Homo sapiens: one gene and its partner. The protein of the gene in region 1 interacts with the protein of each later gene in a biochemical or structural test. Each region holds a gene or a part of one and is shown in the gene's direction. Other genes may lie near its edges.

Evidence for each region. Proteins that work in one complex are often made in the same cells at the same time.
Region 2: the proteins of EN1 (region 1) and TLE1 form a complex in vitro, tested with the Homo sapiens proteins (one study listed by BioGRID).

What each region holds. Positions count from the first base shown.
Region 1 is NC_000002.12:118,840,694-118,845,192, reverse strand, and holds the end of EN1 (homeobox protein engrailed-1), read left to right. Parts: intron 1-1,938; coding exon 1,939-2,255; 3' UTR 2,256-3,022; downstream 3,023-4,499. UniProt on the Homo sapiens protein: Required for proper formation of the apical ectodermal ridge and correct dorsal-ventral patterning in the limb.
Region 2 is NC_000009.12:81,679,086-81,684,106, reverse strand, and holds part of TLE1 (transducin-like enhancer protein 1), read left to right. Parts: intron 1-5,021. UniProt on the Homo sapiens protein: Transcriptional corepressor that binds to a number of transcription factors. Inhibits NF-kappa-B-regulated gene expression. Inhibits the transcriptional activation mediated by FOXA2, and by CTNNB1 and TCF family members in Wnt signaling.

The sequences.
Region 1 (4,499 bases):
TGCGCACTATCAGCTCCCGCCATCTCGAGCCCCGTTATTGACACGTCGGGCTCCCTGAACCTCCGAAAAGCTGCTTTGATTGACTCGCCTGATGGATAGAGTGATTGAGCTGTCAGGCTGCACGGCTCGGGCTGGCCGGGAGACTAGGAACGATTTTATTACAAGAGTCCGTGCCTCTGCACACACATACAACAACACTTCAACATGTCCCGGATGCAGAACGGGCAGTGGGGCCTTTTTGGGGCTGTGTGCATTTCTTGGGCTATTTCTCCCCGCTCAGCTAATTACGAATCAAAACCCCAGTTCTGCTCTGGAGAGGGCCTTGGCTTTGTTCTTGGCCACTTTCCTTCTTATGGGCCTGGGTAGGTAGGGGACCAGCTCCTTCTCCTGCTTGGGCAGTTGGGGGAGGAGGGGATGAGCCTCGACCCAGATCTGAGTCGCTGCAGTATGCTAGGCCTGGACTCTTTGTCATAGGACAGCTGGTTACCCCAGCCTCCTGCCTGCCCCAGGAGTAGGCTGCCCAGCCTTCCTCTCTGTAGCTAGGTTTGGAGATGCCGGCAAAGATCCTTCTTTCCAGACAGTTTTAGAGATGAACAGGCCTGACAGGGACTTAACTTGGTTCAGCAAGCTACCATATCCAAGGCAGGACCCAGCAAGTAAATGCCAGAAGACTTGGGTGTGGAAGCAGGTGGGCAGAGGTGCAGGCTTTTGAGGCACACACCAACAGTTCAATCCTCTCCTGGTTTTCCCGCTTTCCCTCCCTCCTTTCTCAGTGGGCCCTCCTCCCAGACTAGTATTTGAGGGGAACTTCACCTTCCTAAGGAGGTTTCCTGTGGCCCCTTCCCATTCCTATCTGGTGGTCAAAGCACATTTTTTTTTTTCTGGATTGTCCCTGCTTCCCTCCCTCTCCTTTTTGCTCATAGGTGGGGGAAGGGGCTGCAGTCTCCTTGCAAATGTCATCAGTAGGCAGAGAAAGCCAATCCGGCTTGTTTTTGTTATTCAGGAGTTTTTAATCCTGAAATTGCATCAGTTGAAAGGGGAGATAAGGAAGACCCAGATAAGAGAGACCCTGCCCCACGCAGCCGGTTAGAGGAATGTGGAAGGCCCTCCCTTTCTTATTGGCACCATCCAAGGGGCAAGGCTGAAAACCCAGAGCCAGGGTCATGAGGATGGATCAGGGCCTTTTCTCCTTCAGAGAAGGGGTGGTCCCTGCATCCCTGAGACCCTAGAAAAGGCTTCCTTTAGGCCAAAGAGAAAGAAGGCGAGGAGGTGTGTGTGGGAGGGAGGGGTGCGGGGAGGGGGGCAGACACCAAATACTTTGGAGCTAAGCAGCCCTCTCCCAGCCGGCTCACTATCCCGTTGTTTTCTGAGGTCAATAGCTACAAGCAGATGGGGTCTTATTGTAGTTTCTCCTGTAGGTATGATTCTTGAGGAGGAGAGGAAGATTTGTTTGCAGGCTGGCGACTCCCCCAGGGCCTGCCCTCACTGCCCCAGTCCTATCTATTCCGGGGCGGTGAGGACAGCAGGCCCCTGACCCCCAACTCTGGGCTGGGCCATATGAGCTCCAAATATCTCCTCATCTTGGATTCCTGCCTTCTTGGCTTGGAAATGTTGTGATTTCGGTCTGTCCCTGACTGTCCTGTGAGAATTGGGGTGTGGGGTGCACCTACAACCTCAACCAGCTTTCCTTCACTGCTCCTTTGCCCTCCCAAAGGGAACCCGGGGACCCCAGTGGTCTGGTGAGGGGCACTTCGATCCAGGGATTGGCTGGCGGGAGGGAGCCAGGGGTTCAGCAGGGCCTCCGAGATCGCCCCGGAAGCGCGGGGCTCGCGGCCCAGCTCGGCAATGCTATTCTCACGGCTTCCTTTGCCCTCTCCCCCCTCCCTTCTGCCCTCGGTCCCCACCCCCACCCCACCCCGGCCCTCTCCGCCGCTGCAGGTCCGCGCACCAGGAAGCTGAAGAAGAAGAAGAACGAGAAGGAGGACAAGCGGCCGCGGACCGCGTTCACGGCCGAGCAGCTGCAGAGACTCAAGGCGGAGTTCCAGGCAAACCGCTACATCACGGAGCAGCGGCGGCAGACCCTGGCCCAGGAACTCAGCCTCAACGAGTCCCAGATCAAGATCTGGTTCCAGAACAAGCGCGCCAAGATCAAGAAAGCCACAGGCATCAAGAACGGCCTGGCGCTGCACCTCATGGCCCAGGGACTGTACAACCACTCCACCACCACGGTCCAGGACAAAGACGAGAGCGAGTAGCCGCCACAGGCCGGGGCCGCGCCCGCGCCCCCTCCCGGCACCGCCGCCGTCGTCTCCCGGCCCCTCGCTGGGGGAGAAAGCATCTGCTCCAAGGAGGGAGGGAGCGCAGGGAAAAGAGCGAGAGAGACAGAAAGAGAGCCTCAGAATGGACAATGACGTTGAAACGCAGCATTTTTGAAAAGGGAGAAAGACTCGGACAGGTGCTATCGAAAAATAAGATCCATTCTCTATTCCCAGTATAAGGGACGAAACTGCGAACTCCTTAAAGCTCTATCTAGCCAAACCGCTTACGACCTTGTATATATTTAATTTCAGGTAAGGAAAACACATACGTGTAGCGATCTCTATTTGCTGGACATTTTTATTAATCTCCTTTATTATTATTGTTATAATTATTATAATTATTATAATTATTTTATCCCCTCCCCCACCGCCTCGCTGCCCCCGCCCAGTTTCGTTTTCGTTGCCTTTTTCATTTGAATGTCATTGCTTCTCCGGTGCCTCCCGACCCGCATCGCCGGCCCTGGTTTCTCTGGGACTTTTCTTTGTGTGCGAGAGTGTGTTTCCTTTCGTGTCTGCCCACCTCTTCTCCCCCACCTCCCGGGTCCCTTCTGTCGGTCTGTCTGTTCTGCCCCCCTTTCGTTTTCCGGAGACTTGTTGAGAAATACGACCCCACAGACTGCGAGACTGAACCGCCGCTACAAGCCAAAGATTTTATTATGTTCAGAAACCTGTAGTCTGAAATAAAGTGTACACTGTGCTCACGAGCGCTGGCGGCTCTCCTGTTTGCGGGCTCGGGAAGGACGTGGGTCCGGGCACACAGCGCCCCAGCGCCCCTGCGCACGCCGGGCGGGGAGCCGGCCGGGCCTTGCGATCACCGCACAACGAATGCAGGGCGAAGGGGAAGCGCGACCCAGATTTGGGTTTAGCCTGGGTCTGAAGGGTCTGGCGGGACACGCCTGGTCTCCGATTGCGTTCAAGGGAACTCAAAGGCCGACAACCACAGTCCTGGCTTCGGAAACGCTGCCTGGGCTGCGGGGCAGCTCCCCGCACCGGTCCAGGCCCAGCCCAGTGGCGGCCTCCTCCTGTACAAACTGCTTTTCACTCCAACCTGCACTTTTCTTTTTCTTTCTTTCTTTTATTTCCCCTGGTGCAGGTTTTGCTGCAGATTTTTTTTATCCAGAGATAGAAGGGGGCCTGCCTTCCTCCCTCCCCGACAGCCCGCTTGGGCGAGGGGCACTTTGGCCTGGCCTCTTGGCCGCCTGGACTCACTGCACTTCGTTTGCGGGAGGGCTTCTGTTGGCGAAGCAGCAGGTCCGGGGGCGGCCTGCGGAGCCTCGCGGGGCTCGGATCTCCTGGGCCCGCAATGCCGGAGGAGAGGAGGCCCAAATGCTGGGAAAGCTGTTCGGAGTGGCTGCTTGGGCCTTGAACCCGAGGTGGGCGCACGTCTGCCGTATCTGGGCCCTAAACCAAAGAGGGTTCCCTTAGGCATCCCAACAAAGCCTAACTTTCTTCCTCACCAAGGGGGGCGCACATAGAAGCCCCCAGGGCCCTCAGGACACCCTGGGTTCCCAGAAGGAAATGTCTGGCCTCTTGCTGCTAACACTGGGGCCCATCCTTCCAGAGCAGGAGCTGCTCTCAGATCTTAAGAGGTTAAGGGGAGGAAGGGAAGTTTCCTTCTCAGGAGGTATTATCTTTGTCCAGGATTTTTTTAAATTGTAAATTCCACTCCCACATTTTTTCTCTCTTCGGCAATATGTATGTATATACCCACACGTGTGCAGCTAGACGGGCAGGTGCCCACACATACTTGTGTGCATATACAATAATGTGCAGATATTGGTGCACCTAAGTTCCTACCAGTTTTTTGTGTATTCCTGTACCCGTGAGTATTGTGCAACTGATTTTCTTCTCTAATTAGATACACAATTGGACGTTTGTGAGTTCACTGTGTGTACATGCATGAATTTGTGTTTGCACACTGGAATGTCTGCAGGTGTGTTTGCTGGGTTTGTTCATGTGTGAGATCCCTGTTCTCTGTGCTCTTCCCTTGAGTTTCTCAACTGTTTTTGTAGGATTGATTTTGTGCAAAATGATAATGGCTAGTTATTCCACCTTTTTTATTGAAAAATTTTCCCTGATTTGGCCCAATGTACTGTTTGCTCCTGGCCGGGGAACTAACAGGGCTAGATCTCAATCCCAGGAAGCCTAGGTCCCCTCCAAATCCCTACATAAGGGTTTGGC
Region 2 (5,021 bases), on another chromosome or scaffold:
TGGAAGAGTAAGAGGAGACTGAGCTTTTTCTTAAACCCATAAACTCAAAGGATTTAATAACCTCATTGACTCTTTTACAAGGGAACACCACCTCAGTGTGATGCTATATGCTGGTGCTGGGTTTATTGGAGGAGCTAAAAGAGGTGTGTAATTCTTCTGGGTTCCTGTAGGTTATGTGGCGGGATGACCTCTTCTTTATCATGTAGGGAGAAGGGGTGAAGTGGGTCAGAAGCACCATGGTGTGAGAATAGTTTTCTAATGAGTTTCTATACAGAGTGAGGCATTTGTGGCTATATACTGTCTGTCCGTGAGCCTGTATGCATTAATAATATGCTGTGTATAATTGGCTTAGCAATTTGAAAAACGTGAAAAGCTGAGAGACACCATGTTCTTCATAGTAGGGTACTGAGCCTCCTGAAATTTAGTTGATATTGGAAATGCTGACAGACCCTTAACTAGAGTGCTGTGCAAAGTAGTGCTATAATTCAGTTTAAAGTGGACTTACATTTGAAAAACATCCTTCTGAATGTCACACATTAATAATAAGTTCTGAGGAGGCATTTGGTGCAGCTAGTAATCATAATTCTTATTAAAACTGGTGACGTCTGGCCCCCAGGGTGTAGCCAAGCTCAAATTGATGCTTTTTGCCGCCTGATCACCAGCATGGCCTAAGTGCTCATTATATTGTAGAGAGGGCCTTTGGAGCTCTCATTAGATTTGACAGGAATTCTCTCTAGGGGGAAACTGGGCATTAGCGAGACTCCTGACAGGCTGAAATTATTCCTGCTTTATGGCTTATAACCAAATGCTAGCAAGGCATCATCAGGGGACACAAAAAATTGTCATTTTTGACAACATCTTTGTTACTAAAAAAAAAAAAAAAATGCAGTGATGGGGAAACTTTCCGTACAGAGAGCTTTAATGCTGTTAAGATTTGTCTCCAGTGTGACGACCGCTCTCCCTTCCCACCTTTCAACGGGTTTGTCGGAGTGAGTTCTAGAGATTTCAGTGTCAAATCTCACTGCTGACTTTCCTGTCTGGAAGTTTTAAAGTGAAAGTGCATCCAAATCAAGAATGGTATAATTGTGGTTTCCTTTCCTGGTGTGGTGCCCACAGCCCGTGTTTAGGTTGTGTCAACACTTCCTGATAAGCCTTGCCTTTACTTTCTCTGCTCCCGTTTGTGGCGGGTTACCGAAAAGGCAATGAAACAGGAATGGTAATAGATACTTAAGTCTTTCATGGTAGCACTAAGAATATTTTTTTCTTGGAGCCCTTTATAGATCCCTGTCTGCCCATCTTTATCTGTGTGGATGGTAAACTCTAGATATCTCTATACAGTAGAGGTAGACAATGTCTCATGGAAAATTGAGGCAGTTCTGATACCATCAGAGTGTTAGGGTGCATTAAAAAACAGCAAGTTGATGTGAGCCTGGTGGTTTGCCTAGCTGTGCCTAGTGTGTGTGGTGGCGTGATCTTTAAATGTTTTTGTCTGTCATATGGTTTGATATTACCTCATTTGATATTTTTGGGAACAAGATGTACTGTAAATGCACACATAAACCTTATTTTAGCCCACTCATGTTATCTTTTCAGCATGCTGATGAAGCCATGCTATAAATTGTCATTGGTGGCTTTAATTTGCACAGTAATGAACAGTTTTCAATGTGATTTGTCTTCTGTGACCTCCATAGGCATCCTCCAGAGTAGATTGGGTAGGTGTTTTGCTCTGCCTACAGCTGTGTGCACGTGTTCAGAGTCTGGGACTTGCTCAAGGCCACGCATCTATTGAAGCTTGAGTTGGGTTGCCTCCTCCAGGGTTGTCTGTGCTGCTGCTGCTGCTTTTTTTTTTTTTTTGAGATGGAATCTCGCTTTGTTCCCCAGGCTGGAGTGCAGTGGTCGATCTCTGCTTACTGCAGCCTTTGCCTCCTGGGTTCAAGCAATTCTCCTGCCTCAGCCTCCGGAGTAGCTGGGATTACAGGTGTCCGCCACCATGCCCGGCTAACTTTTTTTTTCTTTTTTTTGTAGTAGAGAGAGGGTTTCACCCATGTTCGCAGGCTGGTTTCGAACTCCTGACCTCAAGTGATCCACCCACCTTGGCCTCCCAAAGTGCTAGGATTACAGGCATGAGCTACCACACCCGGCCTGTCTGTGCTTCTTCCTATCCCCTCATGCTGCCATCAGGAAGATGAGGTGGACCATGTCTCCCTAGTGCCTGCCTCTTCAGTTCTGACTCTTTGTGCTGATGAACTTCATGATTTGTAAGACATGTCAGGACTGAATGTATGTTCTAAAAGTTAGGAGAATCAGCAGTGCCGCTGACTGGTCTTTCTGGGGAGAGGAGGGTCACAGGCCATGGGTAGATAAAACTACTGAGCAGTACTGTCCTCAGGTTAAAGTATGTTTAAGAAGAAACAAGTCAGGAATCCTGGTGGAGACCCAGTGATGGGGAGGGAGTTTGATCAGTCACTTTGTGCCTGTGTTCTGCTGAAGAATGGGCAGAGTGAGAGCACTGGGCTCTCCAGGATGGTGAAGAATTTTTTTTCTTTTTTTTTTTTGCGCGACGGAATCTCGTTCCGTCACCCAGGCTGGAGTGTGGTGGCACAGTCTCGGCTCACTGCAACCTCCGCCTCCCAGGTTCAAGCGATTCTCCTGCCTCAGCCTCCTCAGTAGTTGGGATTACAGGAGTCCACCACCATGCCTGGCTAATTTTTTATTTTTAGTAGAGATGGGGTTTCACTATATTGGCTAGGCTGGTCTCGAACTCCTGACCTCAAGTGATTCCCCCCGCCTCGGCTTCGCAAAGTGCTGGGATTACAGGCATAAACCACTGTGCCCGGCCGATGGTGAAGCATTTAAAAATAAATGAAAAGACTAGCTCTGAAAATCTGAAAGGAAGGATGATATATTCTGCAATCCTGGTTGGGAAAGGGAAAGAGCTCCATGTGATATTTCAGCAAGCAACATCTCAGGCCATGTAAATTTTGGAGTGAAACTGCTTTTACAGTTTTGATGTGTGCTTTAAAATTTCTCTTAGAAAAATGCGTTGTTCTTTAGTGGGTTTTTAAAAAAGTATTTAGATGGGACTGTTAGGGACTCACCTGTGGGATATTTCCTTAGATGTGATTCTTTTACTCTTTTGCAAATTTTACCTTAGTGTTTTTTTTGTTTTTTTTTTTTAACCCTGTGTGTTTTTGTCTACAGTTTCTCACTTTGAGATTTTTTTTCCCCCTAAGTCAACATCTCACACAGGGAAATGACTAGCTAGAGTATAGGCACTTAGAGTTAAGCTCCAGCAGGTGTTAATAATCTTGTCATACAAAGAGGGTAGCTGTCATCAAGATTGGAGTGGTCCTCAACTTCATTAGCCAGGCCTGTTCTTTGCAAGCATAAGTTAAAAGAGAGAAAGCTCTCTGCATTTAGAGCCTAGATTCCGAGGTGCAAGATTAGCCTTTGTTTCTTATCAGCAAGCAGGACTGATCTCTCACCTCTCAGTCACCTTCCCCACCCTTCAGCAGTGGGCCAGTGGCTGGTTTTTGTCCTGGACTTGCACTGGAGTAAGGCAAGGGAGTCCCTGGGCATGGATTTTAAGAAAATCACAAAACATAGTTATCATGATCAATATTTTGAAAATTCAAACGGAATGCCCCCAAAATCTTCAAGGAACAACATGTCCAAATTTTGTATTAGGGCAGGATCCAACAGGGGGAGTTGGGAATAGGGTGAGGACAGGAGGTAGAGTCAGGCCATTGCAGGGCCACAGCACCTCCCTTGCCTCCCCCTCTTTCTGCCTTTGGTTACCTGTCCTGTGGGGAGTGGCCATGAACTATAGGCTCTGACTTGGTTCCGTTGTAGTTCATTGAAGTCATTTAATTGGGGATTTCCATTCGGGACTGGGCAAGTCATGAACACGTTCCCTGGCTTCAGTTCCCCTCTCTGTATAATGAGGGTTAGACTAGACAAAAGTCTGTTTGTTCCCTCGCATGGTGGGAGCCATCCCAGCATACACCCGCAGAACCCAGCACCTCGTGCGTGCAAATTGAGGAGCGTCCTTCGCCAGAGGACTTAAGATGTTCTCCCAAATAGTGTTTATTAAGAAACAGAAAGAAAATCTGTTTCTTTAGTAAATATTTAAATAAATCATCTTGAGTGGTAGTTAAACTAAAAATATATTCAGTTACTGGCTCATGGAACCATTTTAAGTTTCCATGGATCTGAGTCTTTGCTGTTTTATTATTAAACCTTTTGTGGTCTCCAGAAGTGGATTAAAGGGGAGGAAACTGAGAAACTTACTGGCTTTCCTCAAAGCTTTGATTGATTTCGTTTCCTACCCTCTCCCCTCCCCATTGCTTATTGTTGCCTCTGATTTTTAAAAATGGAAATTCTCACAACTAGTACCTTTACTACAGGGTATTTAGTATAGTGGTTTTTAAGTAAATTTTAGACAGCTGTTTCTGTCGGTGGGCTTATTTGACAAGAATAGGCATCTGTACCTTCAAAATACTCCTCACCAGAGGATTGTTCTGTGAATACGGTGTGATGTTTTAAGTGGAACTAGGATGCGCAGGTGTGGGCAGGAGGAGAGAGGTTTTCTGATTTTTTTTCCCCGTGAGGTGTGGTTTGATCTGAAAAGTGAAATAAATTTGCACTGAAATTTTAACATAAATTAAGATATTCATGTATTGCCATTCACCTGATTTAACAAAAGTATGGTTTCTAAAATTGTTTGCAAAGGAATGATTTCAGATTTGCTGCTTGTGTTTCTTCCTGAGCAGGGTCCACAGGGGAAAAAAAAAGAAAAAAAAGTGAAGAAAAATTTTTAAAATTATTGTTTGTAGACTACCCAGTCACCGTAATATTTTTTAATGAAAATCCAGGAAGTGTTGATATATGATTTTATCAAATAACCTGTGATTTAGCAAAATTACATGTTTCATTATTTAACATTTAATTTTTTTAATGGCGATAGAGTCTTAATCTGTTACCCAGACTGGAGTATAGTAGCGCAATCTTGGTTCACTGCA